Regions from separate parts of the Homo sapiens genome. Here all the other regions are linked to region 2. Evidence: fine-mapped expression QTL. A gene starts in region 2. Each other region holds a variant in brackets. All regions are shown on one strand. Distances are from middle to middle. Region 1 overlaps LINC01237 (long intergenic non-protein coding RNA 1237). Region 2 holds the start of LINC01237 (long intergenic non-protein coding RNA 1237). Region 3 has its middle 22 kb from the start of PDCD1. Region 4 overlaps LINC01881 (long intergenic non-protein coding RNA 1881). Region 5 has its middle 78 kb from the start of LINC01881. Region 6 overlaps LINC01881 (long intergenic non-protein coding RNA 1881).

The links.
Region 1: its variant is fine-mapped to the expression of LINC01237 in whole blood (INTERVAL, PIP above 0.99).
Region 3: its variant is fine-mapped to the expression of LINC01237 in whole blood (TOPMed, PIP above 0.99).
Region 4: its variant is fine-mapped to the expression of LINC01237 in whole blood (TOPMed, PIP above 0.99). The same link has a PIP of 0.9 or more in T cells, blood mononuclear cells, breast, lung and pituitary.
Region 5: its variant is fine-mapped to the expression of LINC01237 in tibial artery (GTEx, PIP above 0.99). The same link has a PIP of 0.9 or more in vagina.
Region 6: its variant is fine-mapped to the expression of LINC01237 in whole blood (TOPMed, PIP above 0.99).

What each region holds. Positions count from the first base shown.
Region 1 is chr2:241,947,982-241,952,067 of GRCh38, reverse strand. The region is part of intron 2 of LINC01237 (long intergenic non-protein coding RNA 1237); the gene reads right to left. Among named protein-coding and RNA genes, the nearest start is that of LINC01238, 21 kb to the left of the region's middle. RefSeq lists enhancers at 760-1,407, 1,408-2,056. The variant C/T (reference allele first, on the strand shown) is at 1,912.
Region 2 is chr2:241,879,565-241,883,650 of GRCh38, reverse strand. It overlaps LINC01237 (long intergenic non-protein coding RNA 1237), which reads right to left and starts at 2,288. Exons shown (of 4, transcript NR_110220.1): 1 at 2,173-2,288; 2 at 1,016-1,091. LOC105373978 (a long non-coding RNA gene) reads left to right here and starts at 2,324. Exons shown (of 3, transcript XR_924077.3): 1 at 2,324-2,536; 2 at 2,634-2,782. RefSeq lists an enhancer at 2,268-2,858.
Region 3 is chr2:241,835,237-241,839,322 of GRCh38, reverse strand. No RefSeq gene overlaps it. Among named protein-coding and RNA genes, the nearest start is that of PDCD1, 22 kb to the left of the region's middle. The variant A/G (reference allele first, on the strand shown) is at 1,830.
Region 4 is chr2:242,119,985-242,124,070 of GRCh38, reverse strand. The region is part of intron 3 of LINC01881 (long intergenic non-protein coding RNA 1881); the gene reads right to left. It also overlaps the pseudogene CICP10 and the pseudogene SEPTIN14P2. Among named protein-coding and RNA genes, the nearest start is that of LINC01881, 33 kb to the right of the region's middle. The variant G/A (reference allele first, on the strand shown) is at 1,808.
Region 5 is chr2:242,164,210-242,168,295 of GRCh38, reverse strand. No RefSeq gene overlaps it. Among named protein-coding and RNA genes, the nearest start is that of LINC01881, 78 kb to the right of the region's middle. The variant A/G (reference allele first, on the strand shown) is at 2,308.
Region 6 is chr2:242,107,325-242,111,410 of GRCh38, reverse strand. All of the region lies in intron 2 of LINC01881 (long intergenic non-protein coding RNA 1881), which reads right to left. Among named protein-coding and RNA genes, the nearest start is that of LINC01881, 21 kb to the right of the region's middle. The variant A/G (reference allele first, on the strand shown) is at 1,842.

The DNA of each region.
Region 1 (4,086 bases), 68 kb before region 2:
CACCCAATGCCCCACTGCAGTGATGGGCTCAGAGGTGGGCACAAGGCCCCAGCCAGTGCCAGCGTCTCAATCAGAGGCTCCTGTTTGAACTGCTGGGAAGAGGAAATCTCAGAGTAGACTTGAGGCTGCAAAGAAATGACCGTGGCTGCCAGGAGCTGGCAGGAGGAGAAATCTGGGGGACTCATTTCAGAGGAAGGCATGGGTAAGAGATAGAGACCACTGAAGCCCCTAGATCCACCCATTCCTGAATGCCCCTTTGCAGTTAGTAATTGCATACATCAACAACCCCTGCCCCTTCAATGACATTCTTTTTCTGGCTTTTATCAGCTTGAATTGAGTTCCTGATGACTGCAAACAAAAGAGTCCCACTCAAGTAGTTGTTGGTGCCGTTTTTGAGTTTAGGGCACTTCTGACTTTGAAGTTAAACAGTTAAACACTTGAAAGGAATGCAGTCGGTATGGAGGTTTTTGTTTTTACTTATTTGTTGCTGTTATTTTACACAAAACAGGAGTTTCAAACATCTGGAGGCTTTTAAGGATGGGGATAATTTCTCACAGCAGCCTTAAATGCTTTGAGGTGAAGCCTCCTGTTTCTCACTGAACTTATCTTCTCAAACATCTGGGCGGCTTTAAGCATTGCATTTAAGCAAACACTCTAAACTTGTGAAGCAGGAGAAGAAAATAGGAGGCTCAATGCCCCATGGGGTTTACAGTGCAGGGGTAACTTCTGGGGGTGAAAGGAGGGACAATGCGGCCAAGAGCTAGTGGGGCCCAGCTGCTCCTCACCCCATCACCTGCAACAAACCTCGAGGCTGCCACGCGACCAGGCGAGGCCCCGCCCTGCAGCACACGGCCCTAACCCCACTCGGGGCTCCACATTCTGCCTGGAGAAAGGTCGCGGGGGCTTGCGGACGGCAGCTGCATTCCCACAGGGAATACCCCAATGGCATCGCCATTCCATCTCAGCCCCAGCAGCTCCAACCAGCACGGGCCCCGCCTGCTGACCCCCAATGCCCCTTAGCCTTTCGCCAGCCTGGGAATTTTCAAGGCTCCACGATTTCATCGCAAACAGCAAGCGCTCCACCTAGTGGACAGAAGCCGGAGCTGCCTCCCGAGACGGTGAGGACCAGCTGCAGGGTTCATCCAGCCGGGGCTGGAGCCTTCGCTTCTTTCTCCGGCGAGTCCCACTCCCTTCACTGACAAGAGGAGGCAGCGGCATCAGGAAGACGTCACCGTGGTTCTTCAAACCCAAGAGTCAAACCTGTCCACAGGGTCGATGGTTACACAATTCTCTCGTTTCCGTAAACTGCCCCTACGCCAAGGTTTATTTACTCTAAAGAGGTGTGGGGTCCTGGCAGCAGGGGCCCAAGGAGGCGTGGATTCCGCCAGGACGAGGGGTGTGACGGCCTCACCTGCGTCTCACGCTGGCTTTGCAACCACAGGTTTGTGAAAATAAATGAAACGCATTATTCACTGTGCCCATTCGGCTCCAAACAGCAGGTCACTGTTGTGCAAGAATGACCCAGAGGATGGCAGGGGAGATGGCGAGGCAGGTCACACACGTCCTAAACAATGGAGCCTTACCCACCCCAAACACACGCACACACAGACACGGGAAAACACAGGCATATATGCAGACACACACGTGTGTTCACACACAACCATGAAACACAGAAAGACACTTGTACGCACAGACAAGCCCTGAGACAGCATGCGCACACAGACACGTGTGCACACACACATGCACACCTGTGCTCACACATGGACCCATGCACACCTGTGCTCACACACGGACCCATGCACACAGACACACGCATGCACACCTGTGCTCGCACACGGACCCATGCACACAGACACACACATGCACACCTGTGCTCATGCACGGACCCATGCACACAGAAACAGAGAAACA[C/T]ACCCACACAGCCGCATGTGTGCACATATTCATGCACACACACACAGGGACACGCTTCCCTCACACAGACTCCCCCTTTAGGCCCACCCTCCCAGCCTCCAGCACAGGCCAGGTGGAGCACCTGTGGTCAGGAAAGATGGAGACAGGGGAAGCACAGCCCTTTTCAGGGAGGACAGGAGGACCGAGGATCATGGCCTCTCTTAAGGAGGATTCCGGGGGATAGGAGGAGCACGGCTCCTTCCAGGAAGGATGGGGGTTGGGGCGAGCGTGGCTCCTCTAAGGGCATGGGAGATGGGGGGAGCCTGGCTCCTCTCGGGGGGACAGGCTGTGGGGGAGCAGGCACCTCCCAGGACAAGGGGTGCTGTGGTCCCCGCAGCTTCGTGCTGGCACTGGTGGCTGGCTCACACAGCCTTTCTGGAACTTTAGTCCTCCCTCAGAGCAATTTGGGAACTGGAGTTAGGGCCAGCGAGGATGAGGGGGCACATAAGAGATGAGAGGACCTCACCCAAAGCACACCCCAAGCCAGGGCTCCTGCCTCCCCTGGCTCCCTCTGCCTCCGTCCCCCTTGTGAGGTGGGGTCCCCGGTGCTGCTCTCCCCACGGCCCCCTGACCGCGGCTGTACAGGTTTCTTCTCACACCAGTAAGTCCTCAACTCCCACCCGGCCCAGGGAGGGCTCACCCACTCTCCACAGGCATTGAGCCCACAAGACGCCCCCACTTCCAACGCCCACGGTACATGGAGCACCCCTGGCCCCCGGCTTCCAGATTCAGCAGAACAGCTCCCAGGACGTGGAGGCGCCTCACTGTCACCCGCCTGGGAGAGGCACACGCCAGGCAAAAGAGAGGTTGGGGGGCCTCCGGGAACCACCATGGTCACTGCCATGCAGGCCCCTGGACCCTCATTTGGGGTTTTTTATGGGGTTCCAGACATGACCGATTAGGCCACAGGCCTCTGGGGACTGACCCCATCCGGGCCTCTCCCTCTCGGGTGGGGTGGGGTTGGGTGCGCCGGGCTGACCCGCACCGGTTCTACTGGCAACCAGCCCACCCTCCGGGAGCCGCCCCCTTAGCATCGAAGAGTGAGAAGATCCAGAGTGGGAGCTCCGTGCCCACAAGCTGGACAGAGACTGCGTCTCCTTCTGTGATGCTGCAGCAAAGGGGTCCGGAGAGGCCACCGCGTCCCTGCCCACCAGGGCTTCTCCAGCCTCCTCCAGCCAGGGATCAACCCCCACATGCAACCTTTCTCCTCTGCCCTGTGCCCCGCAGCCCTGCTCACCCACCTCACACACACGTACAGTCACACAGACATACAATGACACACCATCACACAAAATCACACATCCACCCCATCACACACAATCACACACAGACACACACCATCACACCCATGCAGTCACTCACACACCATCACGCACACACAATCACACACCATCACACCAGACACACCATCACACATACACACATAGACACATACACGTGCAGCCACACAGACACGGTCACACATCACACACACAGACACAATCACATGTGCAGACACCATCACACACACAGAATCACACACAGACACATGCACAATCAAACATACCATCACACACCAAGACACACACATCATTATGCACAGACACATGATCACACACGGACACAATCACACACACACACAGAGACACACATGATTACACATCACACACAGACACAATCACACACAGAGACACACATGATTACACATCACACACAGACACACACAGAGACACACACGATTACACATTATCACACACAGACCCACACATCACACAGACACAATCACACATGATCACACGTAGACACACAATCACATATAGACACAGACATACACACCACACAGACACACACATGAACACACACAGACACGTCGCCGAAGCACTGCTCAAGTCCCATTCGGGGCTGGAGCCCTCGACCCTCTCACAGGAGGCCGACGTGGCCGCCAGGCTCTGCTTCCCCGTGCACAGCTCACCGACCGCAGGTGAGGGCGCTGGCTGAGCAGACCCGGCCTCCCATGCAGGGGGAGAAAGAGGCTCCTGGGGCGCCCTCCACCACCCAGGTGTGGACAGAAGACCAGGCTCAGCAGGAGACTCTGCAAGAACCAGATGAGAACCCTCATCTGACTCGGAGCCAGGGTCCAGGAGGCTGCAGACAGTC
Region 2 (4,086 bases):
ACCCCGTCTCTACTAAAAAAAATACAAAAAAATTAGCCAGGCGTGGTGGCGGGTGCCTGTGGTCCCAGCTACTCGGGAGGCTAAGGCAGGAGAATGGCGTGAACCCGAGAGGTGGAGCTTGCAGCGAGCCAAGATCGCGCCACTGCACTCCAGCTTGGGCAATGGAGCAAGACTCTGTCTGAAAAAGAAAAAAAAAAGAAAAAAGAATAGAAAAAGGAAAAGATACACAGTGCCAATTCTGTGCATAAGAAAATAGCCCTGGAACACTCACATTAGACCAGGTAGCACCCCTGAAGATAAAGAGGGACATTCCATGATGACACCATGGTCAGCCACTGTCAGGATCACAGAAAAATCCTAAATGCCTAAAAAGATAATAACAGTTTCAAAAAACACGAAGTAAAAACGGACGGAACTGAAAGAATAGAGAAATTCACTGTCCTAGTTGGAGATGTAACAGCTCTCTCGGGACTGCAAGCACAGCGGGTGGGACAGGAAGGATTCGCCGGTTTAAAGAGCACTGTCAACCAGCTGCACCTCATTAACTCTTGGCGAGCATCCCACCCCACAGCTGCAGAACACAAGTAATTTTTGAGTGTATACGGAGCATTTACAAAGATAGGGCTTATGTTAAACAGTAAGAATAAGTCTCTGTAATTTTAAAAAGTGAGATCCTGCAGTTTGTTCCTTGATCAAAATGGAATTAAATCAGTAATAGCAAGATTCCTTTTAGACTCTCCACATATTTGGAAAGTGGGCAATACTCTTCTAAATATGCTTCTCAGAATAGAGGGTTTAAAAAATAAATACACACATAAAGAGATTCTTCTAAATAAAGCATGGGTCAAAGAAGAAATCCAAAGAAAATTAGCACTTATTTCAAATATCCATCAAAATATTACACAAAAATTGTAGCATAGTCTTAGAGGAAGATTTGTGACTTTAAATACTGACGACATTTCAACAAAGAAGGTACACAGTGATCAATACACTCATGAAAGGGTGTTCAACTCACCCGTCACAAGGAAATGCAAACTAACGCCTCACTGAGATCTGCCAAACTTCTGGTGCCGACTGTGACCTGGCCGCGCCTGCGGGGGGCAGAGGAGAGAAGGAGACTGGGGGTGAGGTCCACGTGTCCCAGGCAGGGGGACAGAGGCCAGAAGAAAGTGGCTGCGGGTGAGATCCACATGTCCCAGCCAGGGACGGAGAGGAGGGAGAACCGGACAGCAGCATCTGCTTCCAGCCACGTCACGTGTTTGGAGAGGCGGTGTCACCTCAGTGTGAGGAATGGCCACTCAGGACACGTCTGGACTTCCTCCCAGCCACCTCTCACCAGGGATCAGAATCCCGGCCCCGGGGACCCTCGACCCATAAACATCTTGGGCCTACAGCACCACCAAGCACGCCACAGCCTTGGCCTGGGGCTGCTTCAGAGACACCGCACGGAGGGCTTCTCACTTCCCCAGCCAGGAGCCACCCACGCTGCACCCGGGGAGGCCCCAGTTGCATCTGTCCCACCTTTCAGACCGAGCCAGCCAGAGGCGCCCAGAAAGACTATGCCAGGCCTCAGCTGTGTTGAAACCCAGGTTGGGGACAGTGGCAGGACCTGTGCCAGCGTCTGCCCTTGCTCCTGGCTGGATTCAGTTACTTGGCTGGGCCCCAGTGAAGGCGCAGAGGGCACCACCACCTGCACAGGAAGGGAAGGAAGCCCACAGCAGAGCCAGCACACGTGTGGCCACGCCCCGGCCCAGCCCCCCCTCACACGTGGCCACACCCCCTGCCCAGCCCCCTTACATGTGGCCACACCTCCGATCAGCCCCCTTCCACACGTGGTCACGCCCCCTGTTCAGCCTCCTCGCACATGACCACGCCCCCGTCCAGCCCCCGCACACAGGGCCACTCCTCTAGCCCAGCCCCTCACACGCGTGACCACGCCCCTTAGTCTCCTCGCTCGTGGCCACGCCCCCTGCACGGCCCCCTCGCGCGTGGCCACACCCCTGTCCAGCCACACACACACACACACACACACACACACACACACACACACACACACGCTGGGCCACGCCCCTACCCAGCCCCCTCACACGTATGGGCACGCCCCTGCTCAGCGCCCTCACACGCATGGCCACCCCCCGTCCAGCCCCTTAACGCGTGCTGCCCCGTGCCCACCTACAGCGGCCTCCTCCGCACCAGGGCTGACCCAGTGTGGGGTCCAGGTGGGCTCTGGTAGGCCCCCGGGCAGAGCTGTGCCCCGCGTCACTGAGGATGCACAGAGAAAAAGGAAGGGGCGGAGGAAGCGGAAACCCGAGCAGCGCTGCCTGGGCGTGGCAAGCCCGCTAGTTTTCCCGCCCGCTCATCTGCTTTCCCTCCCTCCATAATAAGTGTGGCACCTGGAGTGTGTGACTTTCATGATTTTCTTTTAGGAGAAACATAACGCAGTCCTCTGTCCCGCCCCTCCTGCAGGGAATGGTCATGGGGGCGTAGTTAACCCCATGCGTGCGGAGGTACACCTTGGAGCCCAGCGCCGACACAGGTCAGGAGAGTGTTAGCCACTGCTGAATGACTCCTGTTGTGTGCAAAATTGTTTTGACTTTTAAAGACTACACACAACCCATTCTGCCATTATTTAGGGTGAATTATACTGCTGGGTCACAAGAAGAAGACGTGGCTCCTCTTGATGCTGAGGGAGGCCTGGAAGTCATTGCTGGGAGCTTGGGAAGAGGGCTCCCCGAGGCAGAGCCTCCCAGGGGACAGAGGCGGCCCAGCGATGACCTGGGAGGTGAGCACAGGTGTGCGGGGCCCCTCGGGGCCCACCATAAGGCCCCACAGCAGGCCCTAACCTCCCCCATGTGTCCTAAGGCAGTTCCATTTGCATTGGCAATGGTCATTTCACTACTTCTGACCTGGAAGCGAGGTATATGTTTGGAGGTGACACGAGGCTCCCAAAGGGGTGCTATAGGGCGCCTTTTCTTATTTTATAAAACTTACATCGAAATGAGCCGCACCCTGAGGGGCAGCCCACCTGCTCACCCCTGGAGGGACTCTCCCAGGGCTGAGGGTCTTCCCCAGATGCTTCACCCGGGCTCCTCCAAGTGTGGGGTGGCCTTCAGTCTGCTGCGAAGAGGATGTGGGGTGTCTGGCAGCCACTCTGCTCTGGATTTGCGGGAACCTCTGCTGCCTCCCTGGTGCCCCTTGATTGGCGCTGGGTCTAGGAACCCCCTCTGGGTTGGAACTGGACTTGAAAAGGTCATTTTCTGCCTGCACCCACCAAGGCCACCTGGGGCTGTGGAGCCAGGAAACCCCTGTCACTCTCCTCAGATGCTGGCCCGAGGGCACCCTCAGTCTCCCTGAGTCCAAATCACCTTTTCTTCCCAAATGACCCAGCAGCCTAGGCCAGCCCCAGCTGGAAAGACTGCTCCCCTCTCTCCTCCGCTCTGCTCCCCTGCCCTCTCTTCCCCTCCCCTCCCTTCCTTTCTTCTGCTGGCGGAAGTCCTGTGCCAATCCCACATCCACATCCGTCACTGCACTCCTGGATCACACCTGGACAGACACAGAACTAGTCCTGGGAGTGATCCCAGGGCCAGGACCCTAGTAATGAGTTATCTAAATGTCTCTGGGTGTCTGGAATTGGTTCTCTGCTCCAACTAGCTTTAAAGGCATTCACGCTCTGTTCCCAGGGGTACCAGGGTGCTAGCTGCCCACAGGAGTAGCATACAGGCACTCAGATTGCCACCTGCAGACATCTGTAATCAAATGGCCATAGGATGCCTGGCCCTGGGCATCAAGGGAAAAATTTAGGGGTGTAGCTGGGTGGGCGGATGCTTCTAAGTGTGCTGGAGAACTTGGGGAAAAAGAGAAAGGCCTCCAATTTAGCCCCCAAAGTCCCAGGCAAACAGGGACACTTGCCATAACAGGTGGAGACATTCCCCAAAGGCTGGGAGGCAGAGTGGAGGCATCGCCAGGACCCCAGCCCTCTGCTGCCTCTCCTGTACAGAGGTACAAAGTCCCAGGCCCCAGAAGGAAAGGGAAGGAGATCCCCGAACCTCTGCTCCAGCTAGGACCTCACTGAGGCCCAGGTGGTGT
Region 3 (4,086 bases), 44 kb after region 2:
ATAATAATTTGCTATTAATAAAATTTGATGTTTAGGTGGGCGCGGTGGCTCACACCTGTAATCTCAACATTTTGCGAGGCCGAGGCAAGTGGGTCACCTGAAGTCAGAAGTTCGAGACCAGCCCGACCAACATGGTGAAACCCTGTCTCTACTAAAAATACAAAAATTAGCCAGGCGTGGTGGTGGACACCTGTGATCCCAGCTGCTCAGGAGGCTGAGGCAGGAGAATCGCTTGAACCTGGGAGGCGGAGGTTGCAATGAGCCGAGATTGTGCCACTGCACTCCAGCCTGGTAACAAAGCAAGACTCCATCTCAAAAAAAAAAAAAATTGATGTTTAATTCTGTGTTGATCCTTGCCTTCTGTTCTTGTGCCCTTGCCAAGGTGTATCTTTTTGCTTGGTTGGGATGATAACCTTCCCTTTCAGCCTTTTTTTTCATCAGCTCCTGTAACTTTCTTTTCCAATTGTAACTACTGCTGTGGCCTGATGCTGAAATGTTGATCTTAAAGGTCTAGAAAAGCAATGTTTTCCTTCATATAACTTGATTCTGTACTCTTGGCTTTTCTTGTTATACATTGTTCAGTATAGCCAGGAAACTTCTCATGCTGTTACTAAGAGTCATGCATTGCCCTGCTCAAGGTGCTGGTTTTCTTGTTTCCTTTCCTCCATAACATCAGGTACACTCATGACCCTAGACACACTCTTCCTGCACCTGACTAAATTCAAATATCCTTTTTCATCAGGTTTGACTTGCAGGTTAGCTCAATGGGCTTCCAGAGGAGAAACAATGACTGCAGAAGGTGTTTCTTTGCCTTTTGAGTAACTGGCCTCAAAAAACGAAGATTTTGCATTTTATCAAGATAATTTCCAGTGTCATTTTTATTTGGTTTTTTGATTGCTTATGAAAACTGAGCTTGTTTTTACATCCATGTAACTTTCTGCCTTGCCATTGAAGATGGCAATGGTTACATGAGTAACTATTATTTTACAATGACCTAGGATTCTATTTTGATCAAATGTTTTGAGCCTTTTAACATCTTTCACAAAAGTCCTCAAAATCAAATCCTACATTAAGCATCTCACTTAGACTTATTGCAGGCAGGATCATCAAAGCTATAAAAATGAATCATTACGAGATTATACATATTTTTTTGAGACAGAGTCTCACTCTGTTGCCCAGGCTGGAGTGCAGTGGCACAGTCATAGCTCACCGCAGCCTCGAACTCCTGGGTTCAAGTGAACCCAAAGTGCTGGGATTATAGGAGTGAGCCTCCACACCTGGCCTGTAAAATCTTTTTGCAGCTTCCAGTTGTGTCATGAACTCCAAAATCACCACCTCCAGCCTGCTGATTACATACACTGGAAGAAACATCAGTTACAGGACTCTTTCCCCTGCACTTTGGAAGGGTCCTTAAAAGGTACTATTAACAAATCCATGTGCTACCAAGTTACAGGGAGTTGACTCCTGGGCACACATAGAGTATGAGTCTGTTTTCACACTGCTATAGAGAACTGCCCGAGACTGGGTAATTTATAAACAAAAGAGGTGACAGCCAGAGGAAGATGCAAAGGAAAGGCATCCCAGGCAGGGAGCATTGCAGCTACAAATGCCCCGAGAGCCTGTATGAGTTTGATTTCACACGCTGTAAAGACACTACCTGAGACGGGGTAATTTATCAACAAAAGAGGGTTCATTAACTCACAGTTCCCCATGGCTGGGGAAGCCTCAGGAAACTTAGAATCATGGTGGAAGGTGAAGGGGAAGCAAGGTACGTCTTAATTTAATTTTGCGTTCATCCTGTTCATCATGGCAGGGGAGAGAGAAAGAGC[A/G]AAGGGGGAAGAGCCCCTTATCGAACCATCAGATCTCGAGAGAATTCACTCAGTATCACGAGAACAGCGTGGGGGAAACAAGCTCCCATGACCCAATCAGCTCCCACCAGGTCCCTCCCTCAACACATGGGGATTACAATTCGAGATGAGATTTGGGTGGGGACACACAGCCAAACCGTATCACATCACCTAAAAAAGGCACCAACTCCTGCTGAATCTTGAACATTCCACACTGGTATCTGAAACCAAACTCAAGCTAACCAAAGCCTTGTCTTCAGATCCGGGGGAAGACAACCATCGAAGTGAACGGCTTTCATGAGACACAGGGCTGGGTTTATACTCCAAGACGTTAAGACATTTCATAGTTTTCCCTCTATCTGAATTAATATAATTTGCTCTATGTCTTAGTACTATATACTTTAGATGTTTAGCTACCTGTGAGCTTCCTTTTCCTGTTCTTATCAGAACTGAACAGCGCTTATTGCCTTTGTATTTAAAGTGTTACTGATTCTTTGTTTTGTTTTCCAAAGTCAAGAAAACCTTTTTTCTTTTAACCTATTTATAGGTGACAGAAACTGAGTAAAATAACAAAGTTCAGCTTTCTCTCTCTACCTTCTACCTCCAGAATTCAAAAACTATTCATGAGCATTCTTACTTACAGCAATATGGTGGTTTGCATAAGTTCAATAAGAATACATTTTCTTTTGTAACAGGACACTTTGGGGATATTATTTTAACAAGACCTTTGACTGAAATAACACTTTCCGATAAAGTTCCAGCAAAGCCAATTTAAAAAGAGCCTACACGGCCAGCTGCTATTCCTGCTGCAATTTACACAAATGATCAAGCCAAATAGAATAAGACTAAAACTTATTTTGTACACAAATTGGTCTTATTATTATTTCTCTGTGGTAGAAAGGGGGAACTAAAGAGATGAAAAAAATTACGTTTCAAAAGAAAACACTTGTTCTGCAATTCCAGCCCCGACCACTGTTCTTGAGTTTTATTTTTTGCCTATAATTCAAACTGAGTCTTGAATTATCTCTTGGCTACACATCTCTAAAGAGGATCCAGGTTGTAATTTTCTTCATGATCGTTTTAGTTGGCTCCCTAATGGGGTTGATTCCTTTCTTCCTGTTAGGGGCGCATAAATTCTTGTTGAGAGGCAAAGCCAGCTGGACTTCCTGGGTGGCGTGGGGACTTGCAGAAATTTTCTGTCTTACAAGAGGATTGTAAAACGCACCAATCAGAGCTCTGTAGCTAGGATTGTAAAACGCACCAGTCAGAGCTCTGTAGCTAGCAAGGGGATCGTAAAACACATCAATCAGCGCTCTGTAAAAATGCACCAATCAGCGCTCTGTAGCTAGCAAGAGGATTGTAAAATGCACCAATCAGCGCTCTGTAAAATACACCAATCTGCACTCTGTAAAATGCACCAATCAGCAGGATCCTAAAAGTAGCCAATCACAGGGAGGATTGAAAAAAGGGCACTCTGATGGGACAAAAATGGAACATGGGAGGGGACAAATAGGGAATAAAAGCTGGCCACCCCAGCCAGCAGCAACAACCTGCTCAGGTCCCCTTCCATGGTGTGGAAGCTTTGTTCTCTTGCTCTTCACAATAAACCTTGCTACTGCTCACCCTTTGGATGTGTGCCATCTTTGAGAGCTGTAACACTCACTGCAAAAGTCCGTGGCTTCATTCTTGAAGTCAGCGAGACCACGAAACCACCAAAGGAACCAACTCCAGACACATTATGCCTGTACGTTATAATTCTACCACTCAAATTATTAATGCCATTTATCTCTCAAATCTCTCTCATTCAAAGTCTCCTGGAGCTGTTGCTGAAGCTATACCATATCAAGCACCCTCTGTCTAGGCCCAGGGACTGCTGAGGAAGAGAAGGGGGCGTGAGATGGTAAGGGCTGGCTTCAAAGGATAAAACTAGTTCAGGCTGGGTGCGGTGGCTCATGCCTGTAATCCCACCACTTTGGGAGGCCAAGGCAGGCGGATCATCCAAGGTCAGGAGTTCGAGACCAGCCTGGCCGACATGGTGAAACCCGTCTCTACTAAAAATACAAAAACTAGCTTCACATGGTGGCACGCGCTTGTAATCCCAGCTACTCTGGAGGCTGACGCAGGAGAATGGCTTGAACCCGGGAGGCAGAGGTTGCAGTGAGCCGAGATCATGCCACTGCACTCCAGCCTGGGTGACAGAGTGAGACTCCATCTCAAAAAAAAAAAAAAAAAAAAAAAA
Region 4 (4,086 bases), 240 kb before region 2:
AGCAATATAACTCACAAACATATTCAGCAGTAAGAAGTTACATTAATTATCTTTTGAAAGTCAATAATCTACATCTTTAATGTATGCATATAGCATAGCTAATGTACTATCGCTGGGTCCATTTATTCAATGAATAATTGCCGCTATGTGTCAGACATTTTTCTAGGCCTAGGAATGGATACATAAGTGAACAAAGCAAAGATTCTGGTTCTTGTAGAGTTTCCATTAAAAGACCATTTAGTAAAACTGTTCTTCCCCCAAATTATAAAATCTGTAAGATGATTTAACAACATGTGTAAAAGTCATTGTGGGCCAGGCACGGTGGCTCATACCAGGTGTGGTGACTCATAGCACTCTGTCACCCAGGCTGGAGTGCAGTGGCACAATCTCTGCTCACTGCAACCTCTGCCTCCTGGGTACAAGCGATTCTCCTGCCTCAGCTTTCTGAGTAGCAAGGACTACAGGTGCACACCATCACACCTGGCTAATTTTTGTACTATTAGTACAGACGGAGTTTCACCATGTTGGCCAGGCTGGTCTCGAACTCCTGACCTCAAAAGATCCGTCTACCTCGGCCTCCCAAAGTGCTGGAATTACAGATGTGAGCCACAATGCCCGGCCTTATTTTCTACAACTTTGGTAACTTTAGCATATACCCCAAATCTGTAAGACATAATATTATAATTCAAATGCAACTCATGGCTTCTCATTGTACTCTTTCTCTAGCTTTTGAATTATTTATTCTAATACCAGTTTTAATTCTGACACAAAAGCATGGGAGTTCTAATCAAAATCCAACCTTTTATCATAAAAACTATGAAGAAATTATGAGTAGAACTTAAAAAGGAAAATAGGCCTATTAATTAGATTTGTCTTTGTAGCATTTAACTCTATAATAAATAACATAATATTTTATGCCTATGAGTACCCAACAAAGCCTCCAGCTTCTATTTAGATATAAAATGTAAAAGTCACTACTGGATCCACAAGCAAGACTATGGTAAAGAAATTTCTCCAGCTAACCAGCTTCTTTTACATGATGTTACATGTTTGTTTTTTCATTTTGGCAAATATTGATTGTCATCTTCGTGTTTGTCTATGTCCCAAGTGCTGGGATACAGAATCTGAAAAGATGGACACAGGACCTGCCTTCAAGTTCACCCTTTTTTTTTGAGATGGAGTTTTGCTCTTGTCGCCCAGGCTGGAGTGTAATGGTGAGATCTCGGCTCACTGCAACCTCCACCTCCAGGGTTCAAGTGATTCTCCTGCCTCAGCCTCCCAAGTAGCTGGGATTACAGGTCCCAGCCACCACGCCTAGCTAATTTTTGTATTTTTAGTAGAGATAGCGTTTCATCATCTTGGTCAGGCTGGTCTCGAACTCCTGACCTCAGGTAGTCGACCCACCTCGGCCTCCTACAGTGCTGAGATTACAGGCATGAGCCATCACGCCCTACTAGGAGTTCACGCTTTAGTTGGGGAAAATATACAATAAGCAAGCCAATTTTTAAAAAGAGAACTGCAATTAGAGTTAAATGCTACAAAGACAATCTCACAGGAAGATGGGATGTAGAATGATAAGGCTCTCAGAATAGTAAGAGAAACTATTGCTTCTTACGATGTTTGTCTTTCTTTGTATCAGTGCTCAGCTGAGTCTGCAGTGCTTCAGAGGCAGCTTTCATTTTATAAAAATCTATGATTTCTCCTTCCAGTTGTTTTTTCTCTTCCTCGAGCTTCCTTATCTCCTCCTGTTGAATCATTTTAAGATGCTCGAATTTGTCCTGCAGCTGTGAAACCAATGTGCAGTTGT[G/A]ACACCAAAGGAGTGTGGCTGAACACCCAAAAGAATATGCTTTTTTGTGATTATCAAACAAACCCAAATCATCACAGTAGAGCACGATCTTAATAACAATCTCAAAAACTCAGGAGTAAACACTCAGATACGGAATTTTTCTTTTCTTTCTTTTTTCCTTTTATAAGATGGAGTCTCACTCTGTTGCCCAGGCTGGAGTGCACTGGTGCGATCTCAGCTCACTGCAACCTCCATCTCCCAGTTCAAGTGATTCTCCTGCCTCAGCCTCTTGAGTAGCTGGGACTATAGGCATGCACCACCACTACAGGCGTGTGCCACCACACCTGTCTAATTTTTGTATTTTTAGTAGAGATGGGGTTTTGCCATGTTGGCCAGGCTGGTCTCGAACTCCTGACCTCAGGTGATCCTCCCGCTTTGGCCTCCCAAAGACCTTTTTTTTTTTTTTTTTAATATAGAGACAAGTTCTCAGTATGTTGCCCAGGCTGGTCTCAAACTCCTGAGCTCAAGTGATCCTCCCACGTCAGCTTCCCAAAGTGCTGGGACTGACCGGATGCAGTGGCTCATGCTTGTAAACTCAGCACTTTGGGAGGCCAAGGTGGGAGGATCACTTGAGCCCAGGAGTTCAAGACCAGACTGGGTGATATAACACAATAGTAAACTTCAACAGGAGAGAGAATCTGTAAACTTGAATATAGATCTTCTGAAATTATCCAGTCAGAGGACAAAGAAAAAAAGAATAAAAAAGAGAAAAGAAGGCTGGGCGTGGTGGCTCAAGCCTGTAATCCCAACACTTTGGGAGGCCGAGGCAGGCAGATTAAGAGGTCAGGAGTTCAAGACCAGCCTGGCCAACATGACAAAACCCCATCTCTACTAAAAATACAAAAATTAGCCTGGTGTGGTGGCACACACCTGTAGTCCCAGCTACTTGGGAGGCTGAGGCAGGAGAATCGCTTGAACCCAGGAGGCGGAGGTTGGAGTGCAATGTGAGCCGAGACCACACATTGCACTCCAGCCTGGGTGACAGAGCACGACTCTGTCTCAAAAAAAAAAAAAGAAAAAAAAAGAGACAGAGAAAAGAAAGCCAACAAGACACCATTAGGCAAACCATTGTCAGGTTATGGGAGTTTGAGAAGGAAAGTAGAGAAAGGAGAAGAAAGCTCATTTAAAGAATGGCTGAAAACTGCCTAAATCATGGGAAAGATTTAGACATCTAAATCCATGAAGCTTAAAGATTCCTAAAGAGGTTCAAACCAAATAGATACTCACCAAGTCACAATATAATCAAATAGTCAAAAGTTAAAGAAACTTTGCAGGTCAGGACAGAATCGAATAATACATTCAAAGTGCTGAAAGAAAAAAACTGCCAGCAACTAATACTATGTCTGACAAAGCTGTCCTTTAGAAAGAAAGAAGAAATAACGTGTTTCCTCGACAAACAAAGCTGAGGGCATTCAGGACCACTAGGTCTACCTTAAAAAAATGCTGCGGATCACGAGGTCAGGAGATCGAGACCATCCCGGCTAAAACGGTGAAACCCCGTCTCTACTAAAAATACAAAAAATTAGCCGGGCGTAGTGGCGGGCGCCTGTAGTCCCAGCTACTTGGGAGGCTGAGGCAGGAGAATGGCGTGAACCCGGGAGGCGGAGCTTGCAGTGAGCCGAGATCCCGCCACTGCACTCCAGCCTGGGCGACAGAGCGAGACTCCGTCTCAAAAAAAAAAAAAAAAAAAAATGCTTAAGGGAGTTTTTCAAGTAAAAATGAATGAAGTTGGGAGCGGTGGCTCATGCCTGTAATCCCATTTTGGGAGGCCGAGGTGGGTGGATCACCTGAGGTCGGGAGGTCAAGACCAGCCTGGCCAACATGGCAAAACCCCACCTCCAGTAAAAATACAAAAAAGTAGCCAGGTATGAAGGCCACTGAGATCGTGCCACTGCACTCCAGCCTGGGTGACAAGAGTCAAACTACATTTCAAAAACAAAAAACAAAACAAACAAAAAAAAAAACTTGAGGCCTGGCCTTCTGCTCCTCTCCAACCTCCCCTTCTCTGGGCCCAAGCCACCTTGGCTGAGGAGGGGGCGAGGAGGTGTGAGCCCCTGCCAGGAACCCCCTGCCCAGACCAAGTACTCGGCCCCCAGGCCTGCGTTCAGTGAGGCCTCCCGTGGCGTCAGCATGTTCGTGTGGAGGAATGTGGAAGTTCACTCTGTGGCCGTGTTCCCCTGGTACTCCATCCCCTTCCTGACCCCCCCTCCCCCCCGCAGCTACACGAGGCCCAGCAACCT
Region 5 (4,086 bases), 280 kb before region 2:
GCAGAGTCCTTGACCCCATTCTAGGGAGACTTCCAAAAGAAAAAAGACCTGCATTTCTTCAACAACCCACATAGAGAGACTTTCCTGCACTTTTGACCTGTGGCTAACACTCCTTACCTTTCATTCTGTCATCAGTGTTTTAGGGAAACACCTTTAACTCTCTACGATTTACAGGTTATTAAGTGGCGCTTACAATTCCCTCCAGAGGTGAAAAAGACATAATGATGGTGTCTGAGCTCACAGCAGCAAGCAGGCGTGTGTGCTCAGCAGCCACGTGGCTCATCTGCTAGGAGCTTGCTAAATACGATGTTCTACAACATTGCTTAACACAAGGGGAGACGCTCCTGACTTGGAGAGTTTAATTGCTCACCTACTTCTTTTTCTGCCCTCTTGGGCTTCTAAAATGAAAAGAACCCTGGGGTGATAAAGTGAGTCAAAGGGGTACCAGGTGCATCACAGCAAAATAGATTCCTAAAAAATCCCTGGCCTAAGATGATACCCTTGGCTGGATACGTTTGAATGTGCTGATAGTGGACATGGTAGAGTGAAGGTGGTTGAAATGTTCATATTAAAGAACTTCCACCCAGATTGCAAGAAAAGAGAGAGGAATGGAGATGGCAGCACGAGTCCCTACAATAAAAGCAGATGTTTTGAGACCGGTTATATTTCTTCCGACAAAAATTAAAGACAGAAACCAAAGTTTAGCCTGAGGCTACAATTAATTGGGCAATAAGCCGAAGGCACATATGGCATAGACAGATTTAAACATTTCTCCCTTATATTAATACAAATACTAAAATTACAAATACTTTGATTCCAAATAAAACAAATATTTAAAAAATTTAATGAATAAACACTGGGGTCTACAGTAGTATTTGAAGGAGATCTCACAAACAGGTTTGGTTTTTGAAGGTTAGAACTGGTGGTCTAGAGAATTCATTTCATTCCAGAGAGAGAAAGAGAGGAATTTCTTGGGTTCCTTCAGGAATGTGTCTAGCTTTGCCTCATGTTTGTTTGAACGATGGATACGGCAGAAGAAAGCATGAGGATTTCACAGATTTAAGGTGCAAAAAGTCACTGGGTTCTCTAAGAAGTCTGGGATTCTTCTGCTGCAAAAATAAGTTTGTTGAGAAAAAATGAGTTGGAGGAGGCTGTTATTGAAGTGAAGCAGAATTGTTTTTACTAATCTGCTTATTACCCACTCTGCAGTGTGGAAACAAATTATTCATGCACAAGGTCCTCTTACTGTTCCTAGAATGCAGTGGAAAGAGAACAGATTAGTTTTTCTCACTCAGAACACAACCCCTAGAAACATCCTACCTCAGATGAGATATTGCCTAATTATTTTCAAAGGACAGTGAAAAATTATGGATGTAATGTTTGCTGCAAAATTAATACATGCTAGAAACAGAAGCATCTGGGTCACAGCTATATTAGAGCTATCTGTGTTCCCCTGTCACTGAGATTAAAACAAAAATGTCCAATACAATCACTCACAGCATGGGAGAGGGGAAGTTGAAGGATGGAAAGGCCAGGCATAAAAGGATTTCAGAATTTCCGTCCATAAGGAAGTAGCTTTGTGCATTGTCTGTTACTGTGTGCAAGGTGAAGTTTGGAGAATGAAAACGTGCAGTAACAACGGCTCCTTTGTCCCTCTCACCTCTCCAGATACCAAGTTTCAGACATGTTGCATTTTAGTTGAAAGGTTGATATAATTTTTTTTAAAGAACACTTGCGGTGTTTGAAGTGACAAAGGCTGCTGTGACAAAAAAGCAGGGAAAGGGATTTTTTTTAAAAAGCAAACAACAACAACAAAAACCCCACAGAAAAGCAAACAACAAACAAACAAAAAACAGAGGAAGAAGTTGAACACCCTGGGCTGTGACTACTTCCAGGAAGGGGCTACAAGAGGCAGTTGGAAATTCTATTTGCTTTGCAACTGTGGGTCTTCCAGCCTGCTTCCTTTCTAAAGTATATTACTCTGCTTTTGGTTCATGAAATTATCCATTTCTGTTTTCTGGAACAGCTATGTATTTTCTTTATCTATCATCTATCTATCTACCTGCCTATCATCTATCTATCTATTTACTATCTATCTTTTCTACCTTTCGCTATCAAGAGCTTGGGTCAAGCAGGATAGAATTCCAGTGTATATTCACTCTACCATTTAAAACAAGAGCTCTTGTAGGCATTCTCCATCACATCATAAACCTGAGCTTTCTAAAACAGGGTGTGGCAAACTACCATGCATGGACCAGGTCTGACACAGTCTGCGTTTGTAAGTAAAGTTGTAATGGGACACAGCCA[A/G]TACATGTGTTAAAAAACGTCTCTGGTTACTTTCATGGTATAATGGAAGACCTGAGTCATTAAGAGAGAGACCATATGGCTTGGAAAACTTAAAATATTTAACATTTAGCCCTTTGCAGAAAATATTTGCTGACTCTTGTTTTAAGAGATCTCTGTTTAGAATGCTACCTATTGCCTTCTGGATAGAATCACAACTCTTTACCACGATCAACACAGCTTCAGCCCTGCTTCTATATCCAGCCTCATCTATTTCTGCTCCTCCTCCTTATTTTCCTTCCGGACATGCTGATGAATTGTCAGCTTCCCAGATGTGTGAGAATCTCTCCTCCCTTCCCAGCATTCTCATGCTCTCCCTCTGCCTCTCAAGAACTTCCTGCCCCATCTCTCATGACAAATCCCTTCTTCATTCTTTAAGATGCAGCCCCTTTGCTCCTTCCTTAAAGATGTCTATCTGGCTCTATTTTGGGTGACATGCTCCTTCTGCATCTCCCAGAGCCACCCTGTGTGTGTCAGCTACAGCATTTCTTTGCATCTCTGTGTCATATATCACCAAATCTGCCTAACCTTGAGTGAGTCACTGCATGACAACTTCAGACTCCACCAGCATTGTCCCCACCAATCAATTATTTTCAACCATTTAAAAATGTAAAAATCATTCTTGCTTCATGGGCCATACAGAAACAGATGGTGGGCAGAGTTGGCCCAGGGGCAGACCACTGTTTGCTGACCACTGCCACACTGTCTTAATCAAGGCAGCTTTTATGGTGAGCCATGGTATCTAGTAATTTCTCCCATTTTTGTCCCTTTTAAGGGCCCTTACTTGGCCCTTTGCATTTCCATATAAATTTTATAATTAATTTGCAGATGTCCACAAAAAAGCCTATTAGAATTTTAATGGGACAGCTAATGCTAGAAGGGTAATTTTAGGAGAAACAAGAGATGCTTATAAGTTGTGTGTGTGTGTGTGTGAGAGAGAGAGAGAGAGACACAGAGAGAGAGAAAGAGACAGAGAGAGAGAGAGACAGACAGAGACAGAGAGAGACAGGGTTTCACTCTTGCCCAGGCTGGAATGCAACGGTGCAATCATGGCTCACTGTAGCCTCGACCTCCTAGGCTTAAGCAATCCTCCCACATCAGCCTTCCAAGGAGCCAAGACTACAAATGTATACCAACACACCTACCTAATTTTTTTGACTTTTAGTAGAGATGGGGTTTCACCATGTTGCCCAGGCTGGTCTCAAATTCCTGGGCTCAAGTGATCCACCCACCTTGGCCTCCCAAAGTACTGGGATTATGGGTATGAGCCACCATGCCTGGCCTTTTAAAAAAGTTTGAGACAGGGTCTCACTCTGTCACCCAGGGTGGAGTGCAGTGGTGTGATCATGGCTCACTGTAGCCTCAACCTCCTGGCTCAAGTGATCCTACCACCTCAGTCTTCCATGTAGCTGGGACTACAGCTGCGTGCCACCACATCTGGCTCATTTTTTTTTTCTTTTTTAAGTAGAGACAGGGACTTGCTATGTTGCCCAGGCTAGTCTCAAACTCCTAAGCACAAGCGATCCTCCCGCCTCGGCCCCTGAAAGTGCTGGGATTGCAGGCATGAGCCACCACACCCGGCCAAAAGTTGCTTTTGAGGAGTTATTGCTGTGTGGATGTGATATAACCCTTTCTGTCATCTCTTCACAAAACTTTCTGTAAAACATAAAAATCACCTGGACCTTCAGAGATGAGTTTGTTTATTTTTTTATTTTTTTAAAAATTGCTAATTCACAGAACATG
Region 6 (4,086 bases), 230 kb before region 2:
TCCAAATAGAAGTAAACGAGAGCCAAGAACGGAACTATTTCTCATAATTAAACCCCAATTTCTATAAATTACAATCCTCATTCTAGTGATGACCTATAATAAGATTTGCATTTTCCTCTGATGGTATTTTCCTTAAGAGATGGATAACAAGGTCTTAATCTTCATCTCCCAGACCACTCTAGGGTTCTAAGCACAGGCTTTACAGAAATGTGCTGTTATGGGCCATCATCTTCAAATCATTTCCACACAAGTCTAGGAAAATAAGACAGGCTAGGATAAGCCTCCGGTTTTTAAAATTGCTAATCAAGGGCATCAGTTCTTAACTATATTGCTGTAAGATATGTCACAAAACTTTTGTTACCAGTAAGAAAAATGACCAACATTTGTGAATGATTTAATTTTTAATAATTATTAAAGTACTACACTACACATAATAAAAAATAATACATACTCATAAACTCAACTTCCCTGAGTTGCCAGTAGGAAGCAACCCTGCCGAGCCCTTGATTTTGGATTTCTGGCCTCCAGAATTGTGAGGACATACATTTCTGTGGTTTTAAGCCACCGAGTTTGTGGTTATGGAATCCCAGAAAATGAATAAAATTATCTATCTTTTCAAGCTACTTCAGTTTGATATTGATTATGAAAGGTACATATATGCTATCAAACAGAAGAGACTTTAGGGAGAAAAAATCTCGCATAAATGCAACAAGTTGCCATGACTCTAAGTGCCAAGGTCATATAACATGCAGACTGTGATAATTTCACCAAAACCAAAACAAAGTGGAACAAATCCTCAAACACAGTTGCTGATAATTCCCACCCTGGCCTCCTCTGACATTTCCTTTGGATCAATTTGGCTGCACCTCTTCTGTCAAGCAGGAGCTGGAGGACATTTTGGTCAGCTCCTCCCCAGAAGGGAGCTACAATCTCTGCTCTAACAATCCCCAATTGTTGTCTTAAGTTAGACTGTGTTCATCAATGGCTACCTACTAAACTTAGCTTTTTATCTGTACATTTTCCAATCAGGTCGTATTATTTTCTCCTGGTAGGCAAATGTTTACATTTATCCATTTTCCTGATATAAAGCTACTTCGTATCAGTGTGTTATTAGTCTCTAATTATAAGAAGATAATCCAGAAGAGAAAGTCCAGTCAATTTTATATAAGTTAAAAAAAAGATGTGAAACCTATTTTCAGAATTAACATTTCCTTCCTAAATATCTAACACAACACACAGAAGAGAAAGTCCAGTCAATTTTATATAAGTTAAAAAAAAGATGTGAAACCTATTTTCAGAATTAACATTTCCTTCCTAAACATCTAACACGACACACTTACGGACTCTTAACACACCCTTCTTACACGAAGGGAGCAGCAGAGCAGAGGGCGGCAAGAGCACCAAGGCCAGGTGGAGCCACTGCCTATGTGGGCCCATCTCATTCCGCAGGGAGAAGCAACCGCACTGTGCACAGAGTGCAATCTGGCAGAAGGGAAACGCCGTCTTAAAGAGCTTCAGATGCAGCAACCTCGAGGAAGGGCTGTGCCAGAAAGTCCACCAGATGAGGCCGCAAACCTATCAAAGGGCATCAGACACTCTGTGCACAGGGTACACAAAACAATGCCTCCCACATTCTGTGACTTCCTGCGTGTGCCACTTGGACCACCACACTCCCTACCTGCACCATCTTACCTGGACAGACTAAATCTCAGCCACCTCATGACTAGGATATTAACATGGCTTCCAGTTCTATAAATTCCTCCCCCTTAAGAATGCATGTCCAGAAATGATGAAAACTGGACTTGTGAGTAGCTTTGTAGTAGGGATTACAGGTCCAGAAT[A/G]GAATAGGTTCAGTAACATATTTAAGATATTTAAGGGAAAAAATATAAGCCAAAGATTTAACATCTAAATAGTGACTATCAAGGGTAAAAGTCACACATATTTTTTATGAGTACACACAAACACAGGAAGTACAGTGACCAGGAGCTGAGGGATGACCCACTAAAGAATAAGCTCCAGAAACCAAAATGACTAGAGGCAGATGCAAAGGTGAGCTGCAGGTGGTCTGTATTTATCTGTGGAGCTGCTGGCACATGACGGTGATAAAAGTGCAGCATGCCATGGTTACCAGCTTGGACAATGCAGACAAAGAACAACCACCAGAGAAGTGGTAGGGGCGGGCAGAAGATGTGCAGGAGCCAACTGGGACTGGGGTGTCCATCAGCTAACTGCAGTATCAGGTACTATGGGGAGCCAACCAAAGAAACTAAGTGTTTGCTATAAAGGCATTAGGATAAAAGTGGGAAAAAAAAGGGAGGAAGAAAGCCCTCTTAAATACCAAAAGGGTAAAAGCAAATAAAATAGAACAAGGTGGTTCCCTGTTATCTGTGATGTAAAAAATGGACTTGGCTCACCTATTAAATGGAAAACAGTCTTGGATTGGCTCACAAAGCAAAATCAAACACCATACTGCATATAAGATATACAGCTATAAAAGGCTGGGAAAATATATAGAGAATTTATAGGACTCAGAAAAAAAGTAACTGTCACAGGAAACTTTATAGCATTAAATACCTATATCAACACAAATTTAAATAATAAAAATAAATTATTTAAACATATAACTGAAAAAGCCAGAAAAAGAATAAGTGAACCAAAAGAAAGGGGTGAATTATTACAAATAAAAGCAGATATTATTAAGTAGAAAAAGAATAGAACTAAGAAGTAAATCCAAAAGCTGGCTCTCAAGAGAAAATAATCAACCAAAACAAACCACTAGGTATCTGATTAGAAAAAAAAAAAATAAGAAAGTTACAAGTGCTAACAGAAGAAAACTTAAACATTGTAAAAGATAAGGAAAAGAAAGGGATAGAGAGAAAAATGTGTAGATTAAAAGAGACTTTAAAAACATATCAAATTTTAAGAATAAAACAACACTAAACTATAGTGTCTAGGGATATACACTTGGTGATAAAACTATAAAGATTAGGGAAATGATTACCATTAAGAGTTTGGGAAGTGGTTATTTTTGAGGAGAGGAAGTAGGTTATAATAGAAATGGGACATGTGGTGGGCGCTTCTGGGATGATTGATAAAGTTCTATTCCTTGACCTGGGTGTGGTTACAAGGATGTTTCCTTTATAAAAATGAAGAAAAACATTAAAAAATCATTACAGGCAACTTTATAAAACTCTTTGCAGTAAGTTAGAAGTAGATGAAACATTTTTAAAAAATATTAAATTTAATGCTATTCCAATACAAAATCAAGTTTTTTTCTTAGAGCTAAACAAGTTAATTATAAAATGCATTTAAGAACAAGAAGAAACTATCCTAAAATTCATATGGAATGAAAAGAGAGCCCAAATAGCCAAAGCAATCCTAAGCAAAAAGAACAAAGCCAGAGGCATCACACTACTCAACTTCAAACTATACTATACAGCCCCAGTAACCAAAACAGCTTCTGTACTGGTACAAAAACAGACTCACAGACCAATGAACAGAACAGAAAACTCAGAAATAAAGCCACACACCTACAACCATCCAATCTTTGACAAGGCCAGCAAAAGCAGCAGTGGAAAAAGACCATCCTATTCAATATATGGTGTTGGAATAACTAGCTAGCCACATACAGAAGACTGAAGCCAGACCCCTACCTTTCACCATATACAAAAATTAACTCAAAATATATTAAAGATTTCAATGTAAGACCTCAAACTGTAAGATCCTGGAAGATAACCTAGGAAATACTCTTCTTGACGTTGGCCTTGGCAAAGAATTTTTGGCTAAGTTCCCAAAAACAATTGCAACAAAAACAAAAATTGGCAAGTAGAACTTAACTAAATGAAAGAGCTTCTGCACAGCAAGAGAAACTATTGACAGAGAATACAGACAACCTACGGAATGAGAGAAACTATTTGCAAACTATGCATCTGACAAAGGCCTAATATCCAGAATCTACAGGGAACTTATGCAAAAAAACAAACGACCCCATTAACAAATGGGCAAAGGAGTGAGCGGAAATTGCGCCACTGCACTCCAGCCTGGGCGTCAGAGTGAGACTCCGTCTCAAAAAAAAAAAAAATGGGC